Linked DNA regions of Homo sapiens. The protein of the gene in region 1 purifies or fractionates together with the protein of each later gene. This does not show direct contact. Each region holds a gene or a part of one and is shown in the gene's direction. Other genes may lie near its edges.

Region 1 (3,074 bases):
AAAAAGAGTTTCAGACTTAACATTGTATGTAGGAATTTCAATAATAATGGACTCTTAAAAATTCACTAGTACAACGAATAAATTCAGCTTTTGATTATATTTTGTTTTTACTAAAAATCACTAGTTATGATTTAAGAGAACTGTCAAAATAGCTGAGTTACACGTGATAATGTTCTTTCCTTTCTGCACATGATGTTAGTTTGGTACAAGTTCTAAACAGCAACCAAGTTATTACCAGAAGTAGTCCATATATTGTAATCTTGATGATTGAAGTGTTACGTTCACTTTGGGTGTTAACTCTCACTGTTGAAGAAGTGACCATTATTTTAAGATGATTTACTTCCTGACTTAAATATAATATAGCAGTAGATCTTTGAGACAATGCTTTTTTAATATTGTCTTCTTTAATCTTTTTTATTATGTTTGGGCTCTTTGTGTTTTTGACAGGCCTTAGGCTACTTTCACAGGGCAGAACAAGGTAAGGTATTTTTGATTACACATATTAATATAGTTAAAATTGTATGAATGCTGAATATATACTATAATAGCAATGTCTAAAGCAGTTGTTTATTCTGTTATACTTATTTTTGTGCTAGATACTGTAAAACAATTTTTAAAGTCTTTATTCAGTAAAGATCACCTGAATGAGAAATAGGCTGCTATTGAACTTAGAGCTGCAGTTCTGGAATGTCTATCATTTGATGTAATTCTGCTTCCTTTGTGAGAGCAGTCTCTGACATGGTAATTGTCTTATTCAAGACTGCACATATTGGCCAGATGTGGTGGCTAACACTTGTAATCCCAGCACTTTGGAAGGCCAAGGCAGAAGGATCACTTGAACCCAGGAGTTTGAGACCAGCCTGGGCAACATAGCGAGACCTCATCTCTACCAAAAAATAAAAATAAAAATTAGCCAGGTGTGGTAGCACACACCTGTAGTCCCAGCTACTCAGGAGGCTGAGGCAGGAAGGTCACTTGAGCCCAGGAGTTCCAGGCTACAATGAGCTGTGATTGCACCACTGCACTACAGCCTGGGCCACAGAGTGAGACTTGTCTGAAAAAAACAAAAAAAGATTATGCATCTCATTAGAGGCATTTAAATGGGAATTCTGCTATTCAGCCAGGCTAGTTCTATTGCAGATATTGTGAAAAAGAGTTTCGGGTTATGTTTGTTTTGAAAAAATGACTAGTCCTATGAAACTGCCACCAGCCCATCCTAAATTTATCCTTTTTAATATTCATACACCAAGTGGGGGAGATAAGAGACATAAGCATATGATACCAAATAGACCATAAAAACCATTGAAATATATTCTATAAAACTTAATCAGGAGAAGACATACCATGTTTATTAAATTTGAGATCCCACACATAATGGACTTGTTCATTTCATGATAACAGTTATCTTCTACAGAATTTTATCTGAATGTTTTATCTCTGTAATTCATCAATTCTGATTTATTCATTATTACCTTCACTGATACCCTCTCTTGATCATACTGTTTCACATATCATGAATATGAATCTAGGGATGACTTTTTTTAACAGATTTAAAAGTTAATTACAAAGTAAAAATATAGGACCTTAGAGACTTAAGGGTTGGGGGTGTTGAGAAAAACATGGTCCTACCCTCATGGAGCTAAAATAATCCCTGGTAACTTCAGTCATTCTTGAGTGACCTTACCTTATTTCTTTCTGGCCTATATTCAGTTCAGAGGCTCCTCTGATGCCCTTAGTATCTTTTATTTTTCCAGTGATACTTATCACTCAATACTATGAACATTTACATGTGTAAGACTGTACATTCTGAGAAGATGTGGACTTTGTCTTTTCTGGCTCACAATTGCACACTCATTACTTGGCACAATGCTTGGCAAATCTGTTGAATGACTGAGTAAATAGATGAATGATCGGATGATTGAATATACGAATATATTTAACCCCAGGACAACTTAAGTATATCAACATGGCATCACACAAATCTGCTCAAATAAAAGAAGTAAAACAATTTTGGTTAAGGAGCAAATGGAGTTAATCATTAATTGTATACAGGAAAAAGTATGCTTTGAATACAGAGGATCTCAGATTGTTAGGGGGACACTTTGTGAAGAATTAAGTTGGTGAGATAATTCCATGTTTTCATTCATAGGCTTTCTGTTTATGCTTTTCTTTCAGCCAAGAATGTTCTCCACTTTTTTTTTTGGTTTCTTGTAGCAGTTCAAAGTTTGTATATCTAGTAAAGCATTCCTTTCATTTTTATATTACATTTAGTTGTGTTCATGTTTCTCTCTTCATTATAAAGTTGAAAAAAACAGAGGTTTTGTTTCATCCTCTATGTTTAAGTATAGCTGACATCCAGTAAATGTTGATCAAATATATATATGTCATCATCATTTCATTCACTTATTCAGCCGATGTACACTGAATGTATGTTATGTTTCACACACTGTTGTAGGCACGTGGGGTACCATAGGGAACTAAAGAGATTAAAAAGAGTATTGCTGTCCTCAAATAGCATACATTCTATCGGGAGCTTCAGCTTCTCATCTATAAAATGGAGATACCTACTTACAAAGTTGTGAAAATGAGAAATGTGTATAATGCAGTGCCTAGCACATTTGTAGATGTTTATTCATTGGTAATTATTATTTTACAAATATTTGTTTGAGATATAAACAGTTGAACAAAAGAGAATTCCCATTAGTCTAATCACTTATTGACCACACAAATTTATTGAAATTTAGACCTCAGAAACAAACCTTTAAAAATAAAAGCAACACTGTTTCCTCTGAGATCATTTTTTCTTTCTTATGTGCAGTGGATCCAAACTTCTACAGCAAAAACTTACTTCTTTTAGGAAAGACATACTTGAAACTACACAACAAAAAGCTTGCTGCTTTCTGGCTAATGAAAGCCAAGGACTATCCAGCACACACAGAGGAGGATAAACAGGTAAAACATCTCCCATAAAGTAAGGCAGAAAGGTTTTGAGGCACTATTAAATGGTGAATTAAGAACTTCTTTAAAAGCATAATTTTCTAAATGCATAATATTGTTGAAAACAAGTGTGTTCA
Region 2 (3,655 bases), on another chromosome or scaffold:
CCGTCCTCTCTTGAGTGACTGATGGAGGGCTGTGACATGGTTGCTCCGGTACCTGCTGGCAGAGGGGCAGGCAGCCCACCTAACCTGGTCCTTACGCCATCAGACCATAGCAGCCACCAAACCCAGCTACATGGTGACATTCAGATTGGTGGCCCTTTTTCCTGTCAGCTACCCGGGCACATCTAGCAGTCTTGAGGATTGGCAGGTCTGGTGGGAAGAAGAATTCATTCTTCTTCTTCTTTTTTTGACACAATGTCTCACTCTGTTGCCCAGGCTGGAATGCAGAGGCAGGATCATGGCTCACTGCAGCCTTGACCTCCCAGGCTCAAGTGATCCTCCCACCTCAGTCTCCCTAGTAGCTACTAGAATGTGTGTATTTTTGACAGAGATGGGGTTTCTGAGCCGTGGGCTTCTTTCTCCTTCCGGCAGTGTTGTTCCCAGTGCTGGGACACCAGTGTGGGAGCTTTGTGGTCAGCTTGCGGGGAGGGTGTTATGTGCAATATTTAGAACTAAGGTCCTCCCCAGCCTGTTACCCCAAAGGGCTCCCTGATTGGTGAAGTGACTGCTGCCTTTCTTCATTGTGGCTGAAACCCTTGTGCGTGAACAGTAAAGTGAGGGGTCAGTCTGCGAGCGGATTCAAGAATCTGAAGAGGGAAGCCAGGTGCAGTGGCGTGCGCCTGTAATCTCAGCTACTTGGGAGGCTGAGCAGGGAGGATGGCTTGAGCCCAGGAGTTTGGGGCCAGCCTGGGCCACATAGTAAGACCCCATCTCAAAAAAACAAGAATCTGAAGAGAAGTTTAAGCAGGCTTCTCTCTAGGCACAGCCAAAGGATTCTGCTAAGGGTGAGAAGACCCAATCACGGATCTAAGAAGAACCCCGTTGCATCTGTTAGAAGTATTCTTGAGCTGGCTGGGCGGGGTGGGCCTACTGCTTCTGGAAAGTTCCTTCTCTTTCAGGACAGGTTCAGAATATAGTAGTGCAGAATATAGTTCTGGGGCCAGTAACAAATTTGACCAATGAAAAATCTTGGCTGGGTGCAGTGGTTTCTGCCTGTAATCCCAACACCTTGGGAGGCTGAGGCAGGTGGATTGCTTGCAGCCAGGTGTTTGAGACCAGCCTGGGCAACGTGGCAAAACTCCATATCTACAGAAAATACAAAAGTTAGCCAGGTGTGGCGGTATGTGCCTGCAGTCCCAGCTACCCTGGAGGCTGAGATGGGAGGATCACCTGAGCTGTACTCAAGTCTGGCGACAGTGAGACCCTTTCTAAAAAAAAAGAAGAAAAAATTCTCCAGCTTGTCTTGTGTTTAGTTTCCCTTCTCTTTCCTCATAGTTGCTTCCCAAAGGCCTCGTGCTCCTTCTCAGGGCATTTTCCCGTTTCCCTCTGACCACTTCTCTTGAAGCCCCTAGAGTGTTCCTGGGTCTTAAGCTTTGAGTTGTGTTTGAGGACTGTACCCGAGTTCCATATGTGGACTCTTCCGTGTTGACCCTGTAGCTCCAGGAGTCAGGCAGACGGTCTTGGACCTACGATTTGTCAACTTTGGCGACAGGCATTTGCTAGAAGCCCCCTGCTCTCCTCGTGTGGAGGCAGCACGTGCGAGGCGGTGAGCTGCAGCTCCCAGTCAGCTGCGCGTTTTCCACCGAGGGTATTTTCCCTTTACCATGGGTTTATCAGGATGTAGCAGCTGCTGCTGCTGGGATTCCTACCACCCACTGTTGCTGTGTGTCCTCAGCACGGCCACTGCCATTCTCACTCTGCCTCCTTTAGGTTAGGCCTTGGCAGTGTGGGAAACACATCAGCCGAGAGTTGGTGCCCAGCATGCACTCGAGGCCACCCTCATCCAGGCCCCGTCTGCCTTTCCGAGCTCACCTTCCACAGTCTTCCCCCGCTCCACTCTCCGCCCTCTGATGGCCCATGCTGTCCCACGGCTGCTCCCTCTGTCTGCCCCACCCCCTCCAGCACTCCCTGTGCTTGGCTGCCCAGCTCGGGCTGCCTCCTCCAGGCGGCTGCCCCTATCTGCTGTTGGGAGGAGATTCCTCTGCCCTTTGAGTGTCCTCGACACTTTGTGGGTCCATGAGAATCCTTATTTTTCTGCTGTGTATTTTCTTTCCCTTTGTTCTTTGTCCTCCTGGACTAGAGCTCTCTGAGGTCTTGGCAAGCCTCACAGCAACTAGAACAGCCCCTAAGCGTGGTGTGCCTTGGTGACAGCACTGTGCCTTGGGAAGCTTATGGCAGAATGGCCACCCGTGGAGCACGGAGCCGCCCAACTGTCATCGCTGTCCTGAAGGGTGAGGTGGGCCTGGGCTCTGCTGCCAGGACCCAGCTGAGGCTTTCTAGTTCTCTCTCCTTCTACCGTGGCAACCGTCTCCTCATCCCCCTGCCATCTCCACCGCCGCCAGCAGTCTTCAGAAGCATCGGTCTTCCCGGGCCACTCTCTGTTGGGCCTCAGGGTGGTTGACTCATTGCTCTGTAGGATGCAGTCGAAACTGCTAGAGTTGACTGTGAGACCAGGAACTGGCAGCCGCGAGGGCTGTCTGTCCTTCCCTCCAGGAGCAGTGCCGTCGCCCTCCACCTACTGCGCTTATTCTTGCCCATCCATCGGTTTCAGCTTACGCGTCCCCTCCTCAGGGATGCCTTCCCTGGTCCCCGCACCCGACTCCACTTCCTCCCTCCGTGCTCTGCTGGCACTGGCGCTTCTCCTCTGCAGCCCTCCCTGCAGGTGTGGTTGTGTCTGTAGAATTGTTTTCTGCCTGGCTGGCTGCCTGGTTCACAGCCCGGTGCCTGGCACAGAGTCCCCACTCCTTGTTAACGGAGGACTGGACCCCACCGTGAGTTGTTGCTGTGCTCTGAGCCAGAGGAAGGGAGGCGTGGAAGCTTCCCTGGCCCTCCAGGGTCTGCTGGTGCTCTCGGCTTTGCGGTCGTTTCTCTTTATTGATCAGGGTTTTCTGTGCCCTGAAGCCACTGAGTCAGGTGTCATATAGAGCATATCAAGAACTTGAAGCCAGGCCAGGCACATGGGCTCACACCCGTAATCCCAGCACTTTGGGAGGCCAAGGTGGGAGAATCTCTTGAGGTCAGGACTTCAAGACCAACCTTTGTAACATAGTGAGACCCCATCTCTACAAAAAATAATTAGCCAGGCATGGTGGCACACAACTGTAGTCCTAGCTGCTCCGGAGGGTGAGGTGGGAGGGTCTCTTGAGCTCGGGAGTTGGAGGCTGCATTGAGCTATGATCACACCACTGCACTCCAGAAAAAATAAAAATGTAAAAGAACTTGAAGCCAGGACTTGGGGCGGGTGCTCTGAGTGCAAAAGACAGAAGATGCTGTTATCCAAGGGGTAGAAGCAGATTTGGGGACCCTGGACTTCTCTCTGCACTCAGCAGGATGTGTGACTTGTGAAGCCTGGTGTGAGACTGGCCCTCTGCCCTGGGGGCCTTTCTGCCAGGTCCCTGGCCCGCTGACTCACGCCCCCTTCCTTACCCAGGAGAGTCGCGGTTGCTGATCGTGGTGCTTGAGTAGAGCCGTGGTTGGTGACAGCATGACGAGCGAGGTGATAGAAGACGAGAAGCAATTCTATTCCAAGGCCAAGACCTACTGGAAACAAATCCCACCCACGGTGGACGGCATGCTTGGGGGGTATGGCCACATCTCC
Region 3 (3,655 bases), on another chromosome or scaffold:
AAATTTTAGTGTCACCAGAGTATCACTGCTGTAATTTGCAGATCTGACAGTGTTTTTTCTCCTTAGTTATGTGAGTGGAAATAGAGTAGCATGTCTTCTATTAGTCAGAAATTTAACACTTTTTCTGAGAGTAATCCCACCCATACATAATTACATCATGGCTCGACTTTTCAGAGTTGCCAATGTACTGTCATTAAATACTCAATTATCTTAGAGATTTTCCTATTCCTGTGTATTCCACAGGAAGAGGAAAAGTTGCCTGGGTGTCTAGCCAGTACTTCATGCCATCTTCCATGTAATTTTTCTATCAGGTTAAAAGTAAAGGTAAGTACATTTTTGTGGCAGCTTTATAAATGTGTTTGGATTCAACCAAATCACTATTTCTAAACAAAGGATTCTTAAGGAATCCTTTATTTAATAAAATACACATGAATGATGTAACAAGGAAATAACAAACCTCATAATTTTAGTTTGTTTATATTTGGACATCATAAAATTCAGGGTTTAAATGATTATTGTGCTCTCCTAAAATTACACAAGTCCTATGAATGTTCTAAACCAAACAAGTATTTCTTAAAAAAAAAAAAAAATTGATATGGAAGAAGATTCTGTAGTCTGTCTTGGAAGCCTATCTTCCTTTCACTGGGAAGCTCTTTCTAGAGCTAGTATACTAACATATGTTAGGATTTGTTTCTTTTTCTTGTTCTGACCTCAGTGAAATTGAAAAAGATTGTCATTATGTTTCATGTTATTTCTATAGTTTCATTAATCTCGAAAAACCAAACCAAGTAAAAAAATTGTTTGGTTCGAGCGTGAGTTAAAAAAATACATATTTTGGATTGCTTATAGAAGTGATGTTATGTTTCTAATTTTAAAAAATAAAGATTTATCAAGAGGGATCCATTTGATTAGATGGTTCTATTACATATTTTTTGATGCCTCCTGTGTTTCAGAGAGTACTAGGTGCTAGGGACACAAAACAGACGTGGTACTTGTTTTCATGGGCTCGTGGTTCTTGTTTTCCACCATCTAATGGAGTGAGGAAGTTTTTTCTTTAAAAGTAACAATGAGTTGATATCTTGAGAATAGTAGGGGCTAGACAGGCAGAGAACAGGTGGCATGAACACTATATTTGAAGTTTCTGAAGTGAAAAATAACTTGGCAAAATCAGAAAGCTAAAGGAAGGCAAGGGTTTGTTGGATTGTAGTTGTGGGGAGTTGGGGAGCAGAAAGAGATGAGAGTGGACAGGTAGGCAAGGACCATCTACTGTTCCTTGTATACTTTGTTAAGGAGGTTTACAAAATTATTCTCAGCTCAGTAGGGAGCAGTAACATCATCTGTTCTTGTACTTTTAAAAGATAACTTTGTAAAGAGAAGAGGCAAGAGATGGGAATGGTTTGAATTAGGTGGTAGCAATGGAGATGTGGAGAGAAGTGAATGGATTTGAGATCTCCATAAGAATCTATAAGGCCAGACAAAGACAGGTACACTATATTCAAAGCAGAATTCCTTTCTGCTTTGAGCAGCTCAGTAGACATAGATGCCTTTTACTGTGTTAGGAAAGATGAAAGGAAGAGCAGACTTTAGGTTATGGTATGTTCTCAGTCACATTTTTTTGTTGTTACTTGGTAGATAATATGTAACATTCTATGATTAAATGCTGGTTTAGGATTCAGAATATTAAAGAAATGTTCTTGTCTCATAAAGTAACTGAGGGTAAAGATGATATGACGATGAAATACGTGAAACATTTCTTCTAACGAGGTAATCTACTGAAAGATTGGAACGTTCATTGTGTTTTACATGTGTTTTACTCTAGCCGTGTAGGACGCTCCAAACAAGCAGCTACTAAGGAAAATGATTCAAGTGAAGAAGTAGATGTGTTTCAGGGTAGCTCTCCTGTCGATGATATTCCACAGGAAGAAACAGAGGAGGAGGAAGTTTCTACAGTAAATGTATGTGTTCAAAGTTTCTGTGAGTGGTGTGGGATATAAAAAGAGTTAGTAAATGTTTGGTTAGATCATTTAGTACTTGTTTAGTATTTATATGTTTTACTTCATTAGTTCATAGCATCATTTTATCTACCAGGTTGGATAATGGAGAACATCTTTTATGGAAACCCGAAACTAAGCAAATAGGTGTAGCTTAATGAGAATGTAAATGTCAAGTCTGAACTGAATGTACAGCATTCTAATATTGACACTTTAAGCATGTAAGTTGTACCTTGATTTTAGGGCACTGATACCCATTAAGTATACTGTTGTTTATATTTTACAACTCTCCGTTTGGTATTTCTATTTGGGTTTCATAATAGAAATTAGAAGTTAGTTACACAGAATAAAATCAGCCTTTGGAATTGAAGTTTGAGCTGAATGAGAATTCATAAAATTGGTAATACATACTTATTTTGCAAAAGTAGGTATGTGTTACTTCCTGACTTTTTTGTTTTTGAGACAGAGTCTCACTCTGTCACCCAGGCTGGAGTATAGTGGCGCACGATCTGGGCTCAGTGCAACCTCTGCCTCCCAGATTCAAGCAATTCTCCTGCCTCAGCTTCCCAAGTAGCTGAGATTACAGGCCAATGCCACTGTGCCCGACTAGTTTTTGTATTTTTAGTGCAGACAGGGTTTTACCATGTTGGTCAGGCTGGTCTCGAACTCTTGACCTCAAGTGATCTGCCTGCTTTGGCCTCCAAAGTGGTGGGATTACAGGCATCAGCCACTGCACCCGGCCCTTCTTGACTTTTAAAGTAATAAATAAATAACTTTACCAGTTAATACAACTCAGATATTTCTCTTAGGAAAAAACATAATACATTTAAGTAGAAGCTCTTCTCCTATCTTTGTTTGAGAAACCCAAGCTCTATAATCAAGTCTCAGAATTGGTCTCTGCTGTTCTGTCCTGTTTAATGGAATCAGAACTCCTATCTGTACCAGGATTCATATTTGTGAATAAGCGAGTTAAGTACACAGGAAAATATGCATAATTGTGACCTCAAATTAGTTTGGCTTGTTTCTTAAAGGGTTTTGGGGAGGACATCAAAGTAAGTCTGAAGAGTCAGTAACGATTGATGTCTTCATCAGAGAAAAACTACATGTAAATTAAAACCCTCTTTTATATTCCTATTGTTAATATTGACATTTTTTGAACTAAAGTTTTATGCTTTCATTAGTGCTTGTCAGCAAATGATAATATGTTTGAATTTTAGGTTATTTTACTGTATTGATAATTGTTAAGATCCAAACTCAGTAACTGCTTTCCCAGAAAGATAATGTAAGTTCATAAATGTGAAATGTTTTCATTTACCACAGGAAACATAAGTAGAAAGATGATTAATCTGTTTGAGTTATTTTTCTTGCTGTAGACATTGACTTCTGTTCATTTCTCTTTAAAATTATTAGATAGAAAAGTAAAATAATTTTTTTCTTTCACTGTTCTGGGGAAGTCTGTGAGCCTGTAAGGGATCAAATGTTATAGAGGTCTAAATATGTGATGCCAGGGCAGAAAGTAAGGATAAAAAGTTTCAGGGAAAGGAAAGCAAAGAAAATCAGGAACAAATGAGAATAAAGATTAGTTAAAAATGATTACTGCATATCTTATGCACATATACCCATTTTAATTAAGCATCTGGTGACTTTCCTTTTAAGGTACGGCG

Evidence for each region.
Region 2: the proteins of RMDN1 (region 1) and NTMT1 fractionate together in Homo sapiens (co-fractionation; one large-scale study listed by BioGRID). This does not show direct contact.
Region 3: the proteins of RMDN1 (region 1) and PDS5B fractionate together in Homo sapiens (co-fractionation; one large-scale study listed by BioGRID). This does not show direct contact.

What each region holds. Positions count from the first base shown.
Region 1 is NC_000008.11:86,474,698-86,477,771, reverse strand, and holds part of RMDN1 (regulator of microtubule dynamics protein 1), read left to right. Parts: intron 1-447; coding exon 448-478; intron 479-2,175; coding exon of another isoform or gene 2,176-2,237; exon of another isoform or gene 2,238-2,378; intron 2,379-2,818; coding exon 2,819-2,952; intron 2,953-3,074.
Region 2 is NC_000009.12:129,629,163-129,632,817, forward strand, and holds part of NTMT1 (N-terminal Xaa-Pro-Lys N-methyltransferase 1), read left to right. Parts: intron 1-3,487; 5' UTR 3,488-3,541; coding exon 3,542-3,655. UniProt on the Homo sapiens protein: Distributive alpha-N-methyltransferase that methylates the N-terminus of target proteins containing the N-terminal motif [Ala/Gly/Pro/Ser]-Pro-Lys when the initiator Met is cleaved.
Region 3 is NC_000013.11:32,771,370-32,775,024, forward strand, and holds part of PDS5B (sister chromatid cohesion protein PDS5 homolog B), read left to right. Parts: intron 1-1,819; coding exon 1,820-1,955; intron 1,956-3,647; coding exon 3,648-3,655. UniProt on the Homo sapiens protein: Regulator of sister chromatid cohesion in mitosis which may stabilize cohesin complex association with chromatin. May couple sister chromatid cohesion during mitosis to DNA replication.